Homo sapiens: one gene and its partners. The protein of the gene in region 4 purifies or fractionates together with the protein of the main gene of each other region. This does not show direct contact. Each region holds a gene or a part of one and is shown on either strand. Other genes may lie near its edges.

Region 1 (3,362 bases), on a different chromosome or scaffold from region 4:
CTGCAGGGCCTCTGTGCACAGCCTGCCCAATTTTGGGAGCTGGGTTGCACCTGCTGTGTAGCACCTGCCCACACTCCTTTGGCAGTTCAGGTATCCAGCCTTCTGGCCTGTGCTGTGGGACAGTTCTGGGACCCCTGGGCTGGTCCTGGTCTTACCTGTCAGTCAGTGCCAGTTCCTGCAAAATAAATGTAAACAAAGGCAAGAGGTGAGATCTGAATGCGTGCCGACGCCCTCATTCAATTGTGGTTTGAGTGGAGTTGGTGCCAAGGTGGTCCTACCTACCCTCTAGTTTGCTGGGCCCTAGCATGCTGTTGACACAAGGGGAAGTCCCCTGTGTCTGGGTGAGTCGCATGGGCCAGCCACCCCCCCACTGCCACTGGGAATTGCTGGGAGCCCCTGTCCTGTGAACGGATGCCCTCTTGCTTTGATAAGCTGCCTGGTGGCTGTTGTTTAAATCTAGACTTCCCATCCAGCCCTCGCACAACTCCTATGCCTTCTGACAAGTTTCAGTAAAAACCACAGGAGTTCAAGAAAGATTATGACTCCTGTTCCGTTACTTTTTGTGATCTCCTTAGATTGCTTCTCCCAGATGGTAGGAGCTGCCCCTTTTGGAGTCTATTGAAGGAGGTGCCCTGGTGGCCACACTGGGCTGGAGGGGATCTGAGGACCCATGTCCACCGGAGAAAACCACGAATGTACCTGAAGCTCTGCTTCTGGCCACTGAACATAGGAAGCCTGCTGCTCAGGGCCCAGGTGCTGTGGGTCAAAGGAAACACAGACACGTTTCATAAATCTTTCTTTTATTCCAAGTTTCAAGTATGTGTAAGTGTCTGTGATGACACATGGTGCTCAGTGAGCGCCCTGTCACCCAGGACCCTGGTTATAGCACCGTTGAATCAAAAACCCACAGAATTGGAACAACAGGAAGATGAGTCACTTACACAGTGGGTTGGTTTTTCCTTAGATTTGTACTTCCAAGGGCCCAGATGTCCAATATTAAATGCCAATAAATTTGTGCTTCAAAAGTCTGTGAAAATATAATAATAGTATCTTGAAAAACAAGGGGTGGGGGCTGTGGATAGGGAAGCACCAAGTCTGAGCTCACCAAATCAGAAAACACGTGGCACCATTATCTATGTGACTATAATAGACTGGAGGGTTTCATTGGAAGAGAGGTCTAGATATTCAAGTTTGCTGAAAATGACCTAAGAGGAGGAGAAATGGGGTTCGGCCTGACCCTCTCTGGGGGGGCTGATGAGCCCGCATTTGTCCACGTGTCACTGGAGAAGAGCGCGGCTCCACTGTGTCTGTGGTGAGCTCGGTGGCTTGAATGGGACAAGCTGATGACAACCTGTCTGTGGGCCTCATCCCGGTCAAGACTGGCTCTTGGTGCTGCTCCAGCAGCTCTGTGGACAAACCCCACCCCCGCAAGGCCTTCTCAGGCCCCAAGGGTCAGGTAGCAGCCCCCCATGAATGATGGGAGGGTCCCTTTCCTCCTGAGCTTAGACACAGCTGTAGGGGTCTGGACAGGGTGGGGGCCGGGCTGGGTGAGGGCACGTGGCATTCGTTCAGACTCAGTTGTTGGGGGGAAGTCCCATGGAAGATGTGGTGTGGCCTGAAGACAGGAGTTGACCACGCAGGCTTCTTTACTGCGGGGACAGCTGGTTGTTTAAGAGCCCGCTGAAGTGCTCAAACTTTTTTTCCGTCTCTTCGCTGAAGGAACCACCTGAAGAGCGAGAATCGGGTAGAGAGAGTGGACAAATGAGATGCTCGGGCCTTGCCTGACCCTGAGCCAGGGGAGTGGGCCTCAGGGGCTGCTGGGGCCACCTGTGTGTGCCCTCCTCAAAAGGACAGGTGCCAGGCACTGGCCATCTCTAGGGCTGGGCACATAGCAGGTGCTCTGTCAAAGTTGAGTGAACGAGTGAATAAATATAGCGCCTTTAATTTTAACCTTTTGCCAAGAGTGAGGCCCATGACTTTTCCTGCAGAGGAAAAAGCTCTGCCTTCCCTTTTGTTCCCCAAGTCCTATCATCCAAGGAAAAAAGTGTCTTTATTGGAGACTAGAAATAACAGTAGTTTGCTAGCTTCCAGCTCTCGACAGAAAAACCTGATAGGCAGAGCCCACAGATTGCTGATGCCCACATTTTTGAGGTCACATACATAATGAGCCAGTGGCCTCAGCTCCAACCCTTAAAAAGCCTTGGGGTCTGCACTGGGCTGGCCTGGTCCTGTACCATCCTCTATCCGTGGCCGGAGCTGGCTGTAAAAACTCAGTCTCCATCCAGGCCTGTGTGTCTGTGGCTTCTGTCCTGAATGTGGAAATGTGATGCTGGCTGCATTCCCCGAGCTCTTTACCCAAATTAGGAAGCTGCCTCTGGGTCCTTGAGAAAGTAGGGCAGCTCCCGCCTGCTTCCTGGAGTGGGGGCGGCCTGGCCTTACCTATGTGGCAGTTGTACATCCAGATGCGGTGGCCGTCATAGCGGCTCCTGCATTTCATGATGTTGTTGGAGTAATCGGATTCTGCAACCTCGAAGTTGGGGTTAATAACAACCTAGGGAGAAGCAGGGCAGAGGAGGCTGCTTGTTCCCTCTGCGGCCACCTCCACCCAGGCCTGGGGCTCTGAGAGACCAGCACCTCAGGGAAGGGGAGCGTGGCAGGTGCCGGGACCCAAGACGGGGGTCTGTGGGTCTCAACAAAGTCCTTGGGGAGGGGAAGAGATGAGTCAGGGAGCAGAGGAAGCATGGCCTGGAAGAGGGAAACCCTGCCCTCTGTCCATATCCGTGTAACACACACCCCTCTACCCAGGGTGGGCCTTCGGAAGGGGGTCACCCACTCCTGGGAGTTCTGGGGAAGGCAGAAGTTGGGGTCTGGGGAGGCCCCAAAAAGAAGATGCTGAAGAGAAGCAGAAGGGTGCAGGGAGGACCTGGCGGTGTGGGAACCTGGAAGAGGGCTGCCTGGGCGTTGGAGATGGGACACTCGTCACAGGCGTGTGACTGTGGACATGTCCCTTCCTCTCTCTGTAAAGTGACAGGTGGGACTTGGGGATCCATGTCCCTGTCTGCTCTGCTGGCCGAGGGCCTGGCTCTGGGGCTGCTGGAGAAGTTGCACCCTCTCCCCATCCTTCCACCCACCCCTGTATCCGCATCCCCCCAGCTACAGCAGGAATAGGAAGGACATATTCTGGGAGAGTGTCTGTGAGGGAACAGAAAAGGGGAGGTTTACGGTGAGGACCCGAGGAGAAAAGAGAAAGGGAGGGAGAGGGAGAAGAGACAACAGTGGTGAACAGAGGGGCAGAGGACACAGATGACAGGCCTTCCCTCGAGGGTCCTGCCACATTTGGAAGGGCTGCGACCCACAGCAGG
Region 2 (3,500 bases), on a different chromosome or scaffold from region 4:
AAAATTCAACAACCCTTCCTGCTAAAAACTCTCAATAAATTAGGTATTGATGGGACGTATCTCAAAATAATAAGAGCTATCTATGACAAACCCATAGCCAATATCATACTGAATGGGCAAAAACTGGAAGCATTCCCTTTGAAAACTGGCACAAGACAGGGATGCCCTCTCTCACCACTCCTATTCAACATAGTGTTGGAAGTTCTGGCTAGGGCAATTAGGCAGGAGAAGGAAATAAAGGGTATTCAGTTACAAAAAGAGGAAGTCAAATTGTCCCTGTTTGCAGACGACATGATTGTATATCTAGAAAACCCCACTGTCTCAGCCCAAAATCTCCTTAAGCTGATAAGCAACTTCAGCAAAGTCTCAGGATACAAAATCAGTGTGCAAAAATCACAAGCATTCTTCTACACCAACAACAGACAAACAGAGAGCCAAATCATGAGTGAACTCCCATTCACAATTGCTTCAAAGAGAATAAAATACCTAGGAATCCAACTTACAAGGGATGTGAAGGACCTCTTCAAGGAGAACTACAAACCACTGCTCAAGGAAATAAAAGAGGATACAAACAAATGGAAGAATATTCCATGCTCATGGGTAGGAAGAATCAATATTGTGAAAATGGCCATACTGCCCAAGGTAATTTACAGATTCAATGCCATCCCCATCAAGCTACCAATGACTTTCTTCACAGAATTGGAAAAAACTACTTTAAAGTTCATATGGAACCAAAAAAGAGCCCGCATCGCCAAGTCAATCCTGAGCCAAAAGAACAAAGCTGGAGGAGGCATCATGCTACCTGACTTCAAACTATACTACAAGGCTACAGTAACCAAAACAGCATGGTACTGGTACCAAAACAGAGATATAGATCAATGGAACAGAACAGAGCCCTCAGAAATAACGCCACATATCTACAACTATCTGATCTTTGACAAACCTGAGAAAAACAAGCAATGGAGAAAGGATTCCCTATTTAATAAATGGTGCTGGGAAAACTGGCTAGCCATATGTAGAAAGCTGAAACTGGATCCCTTCCTTACACCGTATACAAAAATCAATTCAAGATGGATTAAAGACTTAAACGTTAGACCTAAAACCATGAAAACCCTAGAAGAAAACCTAGGTATTACCATTCAGGACATAGGCATGGGCAAGGACTTCATGTCTAAAACACCAAAAGCAATGGCAACAAAAGCCAAAATTGACAAATGGGATCTAATTAAACTAAAGAGCTTCTTGCACAGCAAAAGAAACTACCATCAGAGTGAACAGGCAACCTACAAAATGGGAGAAAATTTTTGCAACCTACTCATCTGACAAAGGGCTAATATCCAGAATCTACAATGAACTCAAACAAATTTACAAGAAAAAAACAAACAACCCCATCAAAAAGTGGGCGAAGGACATGAACAGACACTTCTCAAAAGAAGACATTTATGCAGCCAAAAAACACATGAAAAAATGCTCACCATCACTGGCCATCAGAGAAATGCAAATCAAAACCACCATGAGATACCATCTCACACCAGTTAGAATGGCAATCATTAAAAAGTCAGGAAACAACAGGTGCTGGAGAGGATGTGGAGAAATAGGAACACTTTTACACTGTTGGTGGGACTGTAAACTAGTTCAACCATTGTGGAAGTCAGTGTGGCGATTCCTCAGGGATCTAGTATTAGAAATACCATTTGACCCAGCCATCCCATTACTGGGTATATACCCAAAGGATTATAAATCATGCTGCTATAAAGACACATGCACACGTATGTTTATTGCGGCATTATTCACAATAGCAAAGACTTGGAACCAACCCAAATGTCCAACAATGATAGACTGGATTAAGAAAATGTGGCACATATACACCATGGAATACTACGCAGCCATAAAAAATGATGAGTTCATGTCCTTTGTAGGGACATGGATGAAATTGGAAATCATCATTCTCAGTAAACTATCGCAAGAACAAAAAACCAAACACCGCATATTCTTACTTATAGGTGGGAATTGAACAATGAGAACACATGGACACAGGAAGGGGAACATCACACTCTGGGGACTGTTGTGGGGTGGGGGTAGGGGGGAGGGATAGCATTGGGAGATATACCTAATGCTAGATGATGAGTTAGTGGGTGCAGCGCACTAGCATGGTACATGTATACATATGTAACTAACCTGCACATTGTGCACGTGTACCCTAAAACTTAAAAGTATAATAATAATAAATTTAAAAAAAAGAAAAAAAAAGAAATCTTCATATAATAACCAAAATGTAGACCTTTTTCTTTTCCCTTTAGAGTAATTTCCCCAAAATTTCCCATTTTACACAATCTTCCATTCACCTTCTACTGACTAACCCCATGGTTGGTCCTTATTTTTAGCTCCAAATTCTAATCATGGACTAACCAGATTGATTTTACTTTTACACGGAAAGATACGAATATGTAAACTCAATATCTAAACTCCGTATATGCTGCCTGAACTCATTTGGCACTTATCAACCTATTCATTCATTCATTTGAATATTAAGTTCCTACTCTGAGCTGAGCTCTAACGTCCTGCAGATATAACAATGAACAATGGTGAGACAGGGTCCCAGTCCTCCCAGAGTTTATAGCTAATGCAGAAGACAGACATTGAATAAGCCACCAGCACCCTGTGTAAGAAGTGCCACCAGGACCGGGTGCAGGGGCTCACACCTGTAACCCCAGCACTTTGGGAGGCCGAGGCGGGCAGATCACCTGAGGTTGGGAGTTCGAGACCAGCCTGACCAACATGGAGAAACCCTGTCTCTACTAAAAATACAAAATTAGCTGGGCGTGGTGGCACATGCCTGTAATCCCAGCTACTCAGGAGGCTGAGGCAGGAGAATCACTTGAACCCGGGAGGTAGAGGTTGCGGTGAACTGAGATCATGCAATTGCACTCCAGCCTGGGCAACAAGAGCAAGACTCCATCTCAAAAGAAAAAAAAAAAAAAAAAAGAAGTGCCACCAGTGAGACCACAAGGTGCTCCAGGGCAGAGAGCAGAAGGGTTTCACCCAGTGAAGCTGCCAGGGCCTTCCCTGGGAGGAACAGCTTTACTGCTGTAAGTACTCTGGACAGGTACTATATTGTGTTCACTGTTATATCCCAAGTGTCTGGAATAGTGCCTGACACAAACGAGATGCCTAGTATTTACTGACTCAGTGAATGAAAATGGGGCCCTACCATGTCTTGCACTTTCATTTAATATTGCTATCTAACTCCTATATTGGTTTGGAATTTTACTTACACATACATCTACAAGAATTCCCAACTATACTATAAACTTCAAGGGCAAAGAACTACATGTTGTATTTCTTGGTGTCCCACGCAGCCCCTTGTACAGTGCCATACATGTCACAGGCACTTGAAACAAACATGTGTTGGCTGACAGCATGAATGTGGGCATGCTGTGTCCTTTTTGAATAAAAACCAGGAATAAAAGATTACAGAGCTGAGACTTCTGAAGATGAGC
Region 3 (3,500 bases), on a different chromosome or scaffold from region 4:
GTTCTTTTTTGTTTTGTTTTGTTTTTTGAGACAGAGTCTGGCTCTGTCGGCCAGGCCCGTGTTGGCACGATCTCAGCTCACTGCAACCTCCGTCTCCTGGGATCAAGCAATTCTCCTGCCTCAGCCTTCCGAGTAGCTGGGATTACAGGCGTGTGCCACCACGCCCGGCTAATTTTTGTATTTTTAATACAGATGGGGTTTCACCATGTTGGCCAGGCAGGTCTTGAACTCCTGACCTCAGGTAATCCACCTGCCTCGACCTCCCAAAGTGCTGGGATTACAGGCATGAGCCACCACACCCAGCCCTATTCTTATTTGTTACTTGGTTTTAGGATCAGGGTATGGGACTGCATCTTTCCAAATATCAACTTATTAAAAAAAAATCTTCTCAGCTGGACATGGTGGCTCACGCCTGTAATTTCAGCACTTTGGGAGGCTGAGGTGGGCGGACTGCCTGAGGTCAGGAGTTCGAGACCAGTCTGGCCAACATGGTGAAACTCTGTCTCTACTAAAAATACAAAAAAGTTAGCCTGACGTGGTGGTGTGCACCAGTAATCTCAGCTACTTGGGAGGCTAAGGCAGGGGAATTGCTTAAACCAGGGAGGTGGAGGTTGCAGTGAGCCGAGATTGCACCACCGCACTCCAGCCTGGGTGACAGAGTGAGAATCCGTCACACACACACAAAAAAATCTTCTCAAGGACAGGCATGGTGGCTCACACCTGTAATCCCAGCACTTTGGGAGGCTGAGGCAGGTGGATCACTTGAGGCCAGGAGTTGGATACCAGCCTGGCCAAAATGGCGCAACCCAGTCTCTACTGAAAATATAAAAATTAGCAGGGCATGGTGGCGCAGGCCTGTAATCCCAGCTACACCAGAGGCTGAGGCAAAGAATTGCTTGAACCGGGGAGGTAGAGGTTTCAGTGAGCTGAGATCACGCCACTGCACTCCAGCCTGGGTGACAGAGGAAGACTCTGTCTCAAAAAAAAAAAAAAGTATTCTAGTTGACTTGATAATTATGACTTTGAGCCAGGGACCGATTATGCAACAATATAACACAATTAGTTTAATATATGAATTTAATCCAATCTGTGAAAAGCATTTTTCTTTTCCTAAAGGGCCATTATATTATAGCGAATAATGTCTATCTCTTGGAAAGGAGCTTTCTTCTGTAGACTGTCTTATCTAAGTCTGGCTCTTTTGATAAACATCCACAAATGGCCAAACATTTAAAAAGTATAGAGTTCAACAGTCTGTCTGATTAAGCAATACCAACTTGACATTACTGATCTCCATTCAATAATTTCAAGTCAATAGGGATTGCCTCATGTGCACTGCTCGGGTCAGGGAGAGAAATGGGGGAGGGCGGATTCTTGTTCTTTGACAGGGTAAACTGGATAATCTTGAAACCTATACTTTGGGAGCAAAATATGTGGTTCTAAATTATCTCTCCTCCTCTTTCTCAAGTTTCCCCAAAAGAACTTGAGAATTCTCTTCATGTTCCTGAAAAAAACTGTGTTAAGGAGGAGAGGAGCAGGAATCAGAAGATGGTTCCAATTCCTTCTCTGGTCCAATTTCCTTGCGATCAAATGATCTTTGAGGTTGTTCCATTGTCTTTTTGAACCATTGTTCCTTCCCTAGTAAAATGGAGTGAAAATCATTTTACTGACTTGCTTACTTAACAAATTTTTGTGGGGCTCAAAAGAGATGGTGTGGATGCCAGTCTCTAAATGAGCAAACTGCAGCTCATCTAGAACCTCACCTGCAATAAACACCAGCCCCTTACAAGAGCCCCAAAGCCTCAGCTGGAGAGACAACTGTTTACACAGAATACAGCTTGCTTTCTTCCTCTAATTGGCTGCCTGAGTTCTAACCTATGTTTTAAATTTGTTTTAAGACACAGATTGTATTTGGTCACATGAAAATGCCTTAAATAGGCAATCTATAATTAGCTCTGGCTGAGTCTCATCTCCCAAAGTCACTACTGTTGTCGTCATCTTTTTTCTTTCTTCTTTAATGAACTCTTCCCTTTTTTTGTCCCAGAACAAGCTTCTCGCTTACATGCCCTTTACAAAGAAAATTTCCCTGGCTGGCTGCCAACGGTTTCTCTGCCCACTTCCATTTTAAGCAATTTTTATGAGTGTCCCATCTCTTCTCAAACAAAGGCAGATGGCAAAACTTGCTGGTTTACTTTTAAAGAAAACTTGACCCAGACTGTTATAAGCTAAGAAGAGGCTTTGTGAAGTCACATGGCCTGGGTTTACCCATCACCCCCTGATAAGCACTCACAGCTGATTCCCGTGCAAACCCCAGCATCTCACACTGGTTTCATATGGGCCATAGGAAGCACCTTCCAAAGTTTGATGTGTTCTTCAACATCTATTCCCATGGCAGATGACCCATTTTGACCCAAAGGGCCCCACAGTTCTCTTTCGGCTCCTGCTAGTTCTGCAAAGCCTCAGCACTGCTTTTTCTGTAGGCAGTTAATACTAATGCTAATTCAACAGGAAGTGGTATGGGGGTACAAGAGGCAGGATGTCTTCCTGTTGCCCAGTTATTTACAAAAAGGCAGATCTTCTCTCCAAGACTTCAAACGTTCCCCACAGGACTAACTTGTGCTCCTTTACAGGTAATGAGCTAATAAATTATTTCTGATCTCAAAGCTGTATAACAACTGAATTTGTTCAAAAGCCAAAAAAGTAGTAGAAATACAGTCTATACTGCCTGGTGCAGTTGCTCGCGCCTGTAATCCCTGAACTTTGGGAGGCCGAGGTGGGTAGATCACTTGAGGTCAAGAGTTCGAGACCAGCCTGGCCAACATGGTGAAATCCCTTGTCTCCTAATAGTACAAAAATTAGCCGGGCCATGGTGGCGGGCGCCTGTAATCCCAGCTACTCAGGAAGCTGAGGCAGGAGAACTGCTTGAACCCAGGAGGCAGAGGTTTCAGTGAAATCACACCATCGCACTCCAGCCTGGGCGACAGAGCGGACTGCTTCTCAAAAAAAAATAAAATAGATAAATAGGCCAGGCGCGGTAGCTCACGCCTGTAATCCCAGTGCTTTGGGGGGCCAAGGCGGGCAGATCATCTGAGGTCAGGAGTTTGAGACCAGCCTGGCCAACATGGTGAAACCCCATTTCTACTAAAAATACAAAAAAAAAAAAAAAATTAGCAGGGCGTGGTGGTGCGTGCCTGTAGTCCCAGGGAGGCTGAGCCAGGAGAATCACTTGAACCCAGGAGGCAAAGGTTGCAGTGAGCTGAGATCATTCCATTGCACTCCTGCTTGGGCAACAAAAGTGCAACTCCATCTCAGAAAAGTAATAATAATAATAGATAAATAAATGAAATACACTCTATACTAAACCCACACACCAAAAGAATAAAGAAATGCTTCCTATCATAGAACTTAGATCTGTCATGGAGTCAAAGATTTTAGAGTCAAAGTGACCCCAAGGGGCTAGGCTCTCTTTGGTTAATAAAAGTTTTCTTTCAAAACCAGAAAGA
Region 4 (2,689 bases):
GGTTGGGGAGGGAGAGAAGTGCCTCAAGCCCCACCCTCATGAGGGCTCTCCATAGGTTGAACAGAGCTTTTCTGTTTGCATAATCTTGGTGCAGGGGGTGCACTGCCTCAGGGGAAGTGTGCCAGCACCTTTGTGGGGAAGCGCCAGCAGCTTGGGCCTGGCTCAGCTGCATAAGGCCTTCTTTCCTGAACTTGCCCCTGTGGGTCCCAGGCACAGGTTGAACATCACCCCATGCTCTGGGGTCCCCCGTCACCCTCCCGCATGCCCTGGGGCCCAGGGATGGCTCACTCACGGTACTGGCAGCGGTCGCCCAGGAAGCCGGGTAGGCATCGGCACTGGGGCTGGTTGCCCTGGTTGACAGTGCAGGTGCTGTTGTTGGCACAGTAGCCCGCACACACCTGCTGGGTGCATTTGGGGCCCGTGAAGCCCGTGGGGCACCGGCACGTGGGCATGCCTGGTGGGAGAGGATGTGTGAGCGCGACTGTGGCCCTCGAGACCACCTGGCCCTATAGCAGAGGAATGGGCTGGGGGGACCTGGGCGAGAAGCAGAGACTGGAGTGACTGGATGCTGGGTTGTGGAAAGGAGGCTGGAGGCGAGGCAGGGGCTGGGCATTTGCCTGAGGTGGGGTGGTGGGTGGCGGGGCTGGGGCCCAGGGGCAAGGAGCAGGCGTGGCGGGATGAGGGGGCATACCAGAGGGGGAGGCAGCACAGGTGCCCCCATTGCGACAGTGCTCCCAGCACTGGTCCAGTTCACACTTGTCACCCGTGTAGCGGGGTTGGCAGCGGCACTTGGGCTGCCTCCGTGCATTGAGGAAACAGCTGCCACCGTTGAAGCACTGCAGGTTACAGGTTCCAGGCCGGGGAGCTGCAGGAAGGGCCCGTCAAGGGGCAGAGCCAGGGGAATAGGAGGAGAGGGACAGGCAACAAGGTCAGGGGAAGTCAGGAGCCACAGGAAGGAGATGGTCCTGAGGCATGGCTGGGACTGGGAGGGCATAAGCATACCATCTGGGGGGGGCGTTGGAGAGGGCACAGGCACGCATGTGCCGTTGTCCAGCCGCTTCCCATTGGGACAGGTGCAGACAGGCCCACTGGGGCTCAGCAGGCAGAGCCACTCGCATTTCTTGCGGTCACATGGGTTGGTCACTGCAGGTATGGGTGGGGTGGGGAGGATGCTGAGCAGGACCCTTCTCTGAGCCCTGTGAGCCCAGGGTGACCCCCTCTCCACCAGGTCCCAGGGCCACAGCTTGGAGACTCAATGCCCACAGGCCTCCCTTCCCCAGCCCAGGCTCCCCTCTGCCCCCACCTTCGGGCTGCTTGTGCTGATGGTAAAGGACCACGTCAGAGGCGTGGCTCAGGCCCCCTGTCAGGTTGACCAAGGGGCTGTGGCCAAACTTATGGATCTTGAAGACACGATTATTGATGTAGGTGACACCATAGATGTAATCCTCAAAGACGTCGATGCTGAAGGGGTGACTTAGGCCTGGGGGAGGAGGTGGAGTCAGAGGGGACCTGAGGGGCACTCAGGCCCTGGCCATGCTGTCCACGACACTGGCACCTGTGGTTCCCAGACACCTCAAACTCAACACATCCAGACCAAATTCTCTCTCCCCACACCGGTTCCTCCTCCTGTGGCCACTACTGGCAAAAGGTCCCATCACCCCCAGACTTCTGGGGTCAGTCATGACTGACTTCTATTCCTTCTCCCCCAATTTGCTACGTTCCTAATGTACCTATGCTGCCTCCGTGCAACCCAACCAATGAATGGACAAGTAGGCCAGAGGGTCAGGGTGGGTCTCAGGCCTGCAGGGCTGGTTCAGGGGGAGGCCAGCTGGAGAGGCCTGGAAGGCGCTGCAGCATTGCTGGGGGTCAGTGACAAAGGATGGGAGGCATTGAAGTGAGGCCTTTGGCTCAGTAGGGAGGATGGCAAGGCTGGGGACAGGGCTGGGGACTGCGACTTATGCCGGGCTCTGACCTCGTTTGCTGTCAGCAGCCACAATGGGGTCCGTGCCATTGAGCCGGATGCTGCCGATGACTGAAAGCTTGGCGTCTGCCCAGTACAGCCGCTCATTGTGATAATCCACGGCCAGGCCTGGGGAGAGAGAGAGCACTGTGAGAGCTTGGCCTCCCCAACCCAGGCTCGGGGTGGAAAGAACTGCCTCCATGCCCGGGACAGCTCCACCCTGTTCATACGCCACTCACAGTCACCTCTTTCGGGAAAAGCCTCCACGGCCAATCTGCCCTGCCCCAGTCCAAGCCCCATCCCATCCCTTGCTTTTGTGTGACTTCAGCAGCAGCTGGGCTCTGCGAGCCGGGCCCCCTCCATGCCCGTCCCTCCTGCACCCTGCCCCACAAACCTGTGGGCCACTGAATGTTGTCCTGCACCAGTGTCTCCCGAAGCGTCCCATCCATCGCTGCCGTCTCAATCTTGGGGTGGTTGCCCCAGTCTGACCAGTACATGGTCCTGGGGAGGGAGAAGGGGTGAGTGTGGGCAGGCCGGAGGGCCAGAGGAGGCAGGCCCAGGCAGGACACCAGCTTCTTGGTCTGGGGACAGGGACTGCTGGGGACTGGGAGGAGGGCATTCTGTCCTTCTACAGAGAAGCAGGCGGGAGTCTGCTTCTGAGCAGGTTGAGGGGCTTTTCCTCTAAAACCACAGTGTGCTCATTCAGAGCCACCGACGCTGGCAGAGCTG

Evidence for each region. The genes of interacting proteins can lie anywhere in the genome.
Region 1: the proteins of LRP1 (region 4) and LOXL2 purify together in Homo sapiens (affinity purification with mass spectrometry; 2 studies listed by BioGRID and IntAct, with this or other methods). This does not show direct contact.
Region 2: the proteins of LRP1 (region 4) and KCTD18 purify together in Homo sapiens (affinity purification with mass spectrometry; 2 studies listed by BioGRID and IntAct, with this or other methods). This does not show direct contact.
Region 3: the proteins of LRP1 (region 4) and SLC25A25 purify together in Homo sapiens (affinity purification with mass spectrometry; 2 studies listed by BioGRID and IntAct, with this or other methods). This does not show direct contact.

What each region holds. Positions count from the first base shown.
Region 1 is NC_000008.11:23,296,397-23,299,758, forward strand, and holds the end of LOXL2 (lysyl oxidase homolog 2 precursor), read right to left. Parts: intron 2,552-3,362; coding exon 2,440-2,551; intron 1,727-2,439; coding exon 1,647-1,726; 3' UTR 501-1,646; downstream 1-500. UniProt on the Homo sapiens protein: Mediates the post-translational oxidative deamination of lysine residues on target proteins leading to the formation of deaminated lysine (allysine).
Region 2 is NC_000002.12:200,500,069-200,503,568, forward strand, and holds part of KCTD18 (BTB/POZ domain-containing protein KCTD18), read right to left. Parts: intron 1-3,500.
Region 3 is NC_000009.12:128,071,232-128,074,731, reverse strand, and holds part of SLC25A25 (mitochondrial adenyl nucleotide antiporter SLC25A25), read right to left. Parts: intron 1-3,500. UniProt on the Homo sapiens protein: Electroneutral antiporter that most probably mediates the transport of adenyl nucleotides through the inner mitochondrial membrane.
Region 4 is NC_000012.12:57,208,483-57,211,171, reverse strand, and holds part of LRP1 (prolow-density lipoprotein receptor-related protein 1 preproprotein), read right to left. Parts: intron 2,462-2,689; coding exon 2,355-2,461; intron 2,090-2,354; coding exon 1,973-2,089; intron 1,481-1,972; coding exon 1,304-1,480; intron 1,144-1,303; coding exon 1,003-1,143; intron 866-1,002; coding exon 692-865; intron 455-691; coding exon 293-454; intron 1-292. UniProt on the Homo sapiens protein: Endocytic receptor involved in endocytosis and in phagocytosis of apoptotic cells. Required for early embryonic development. Involved in cellular lipid homeostasis.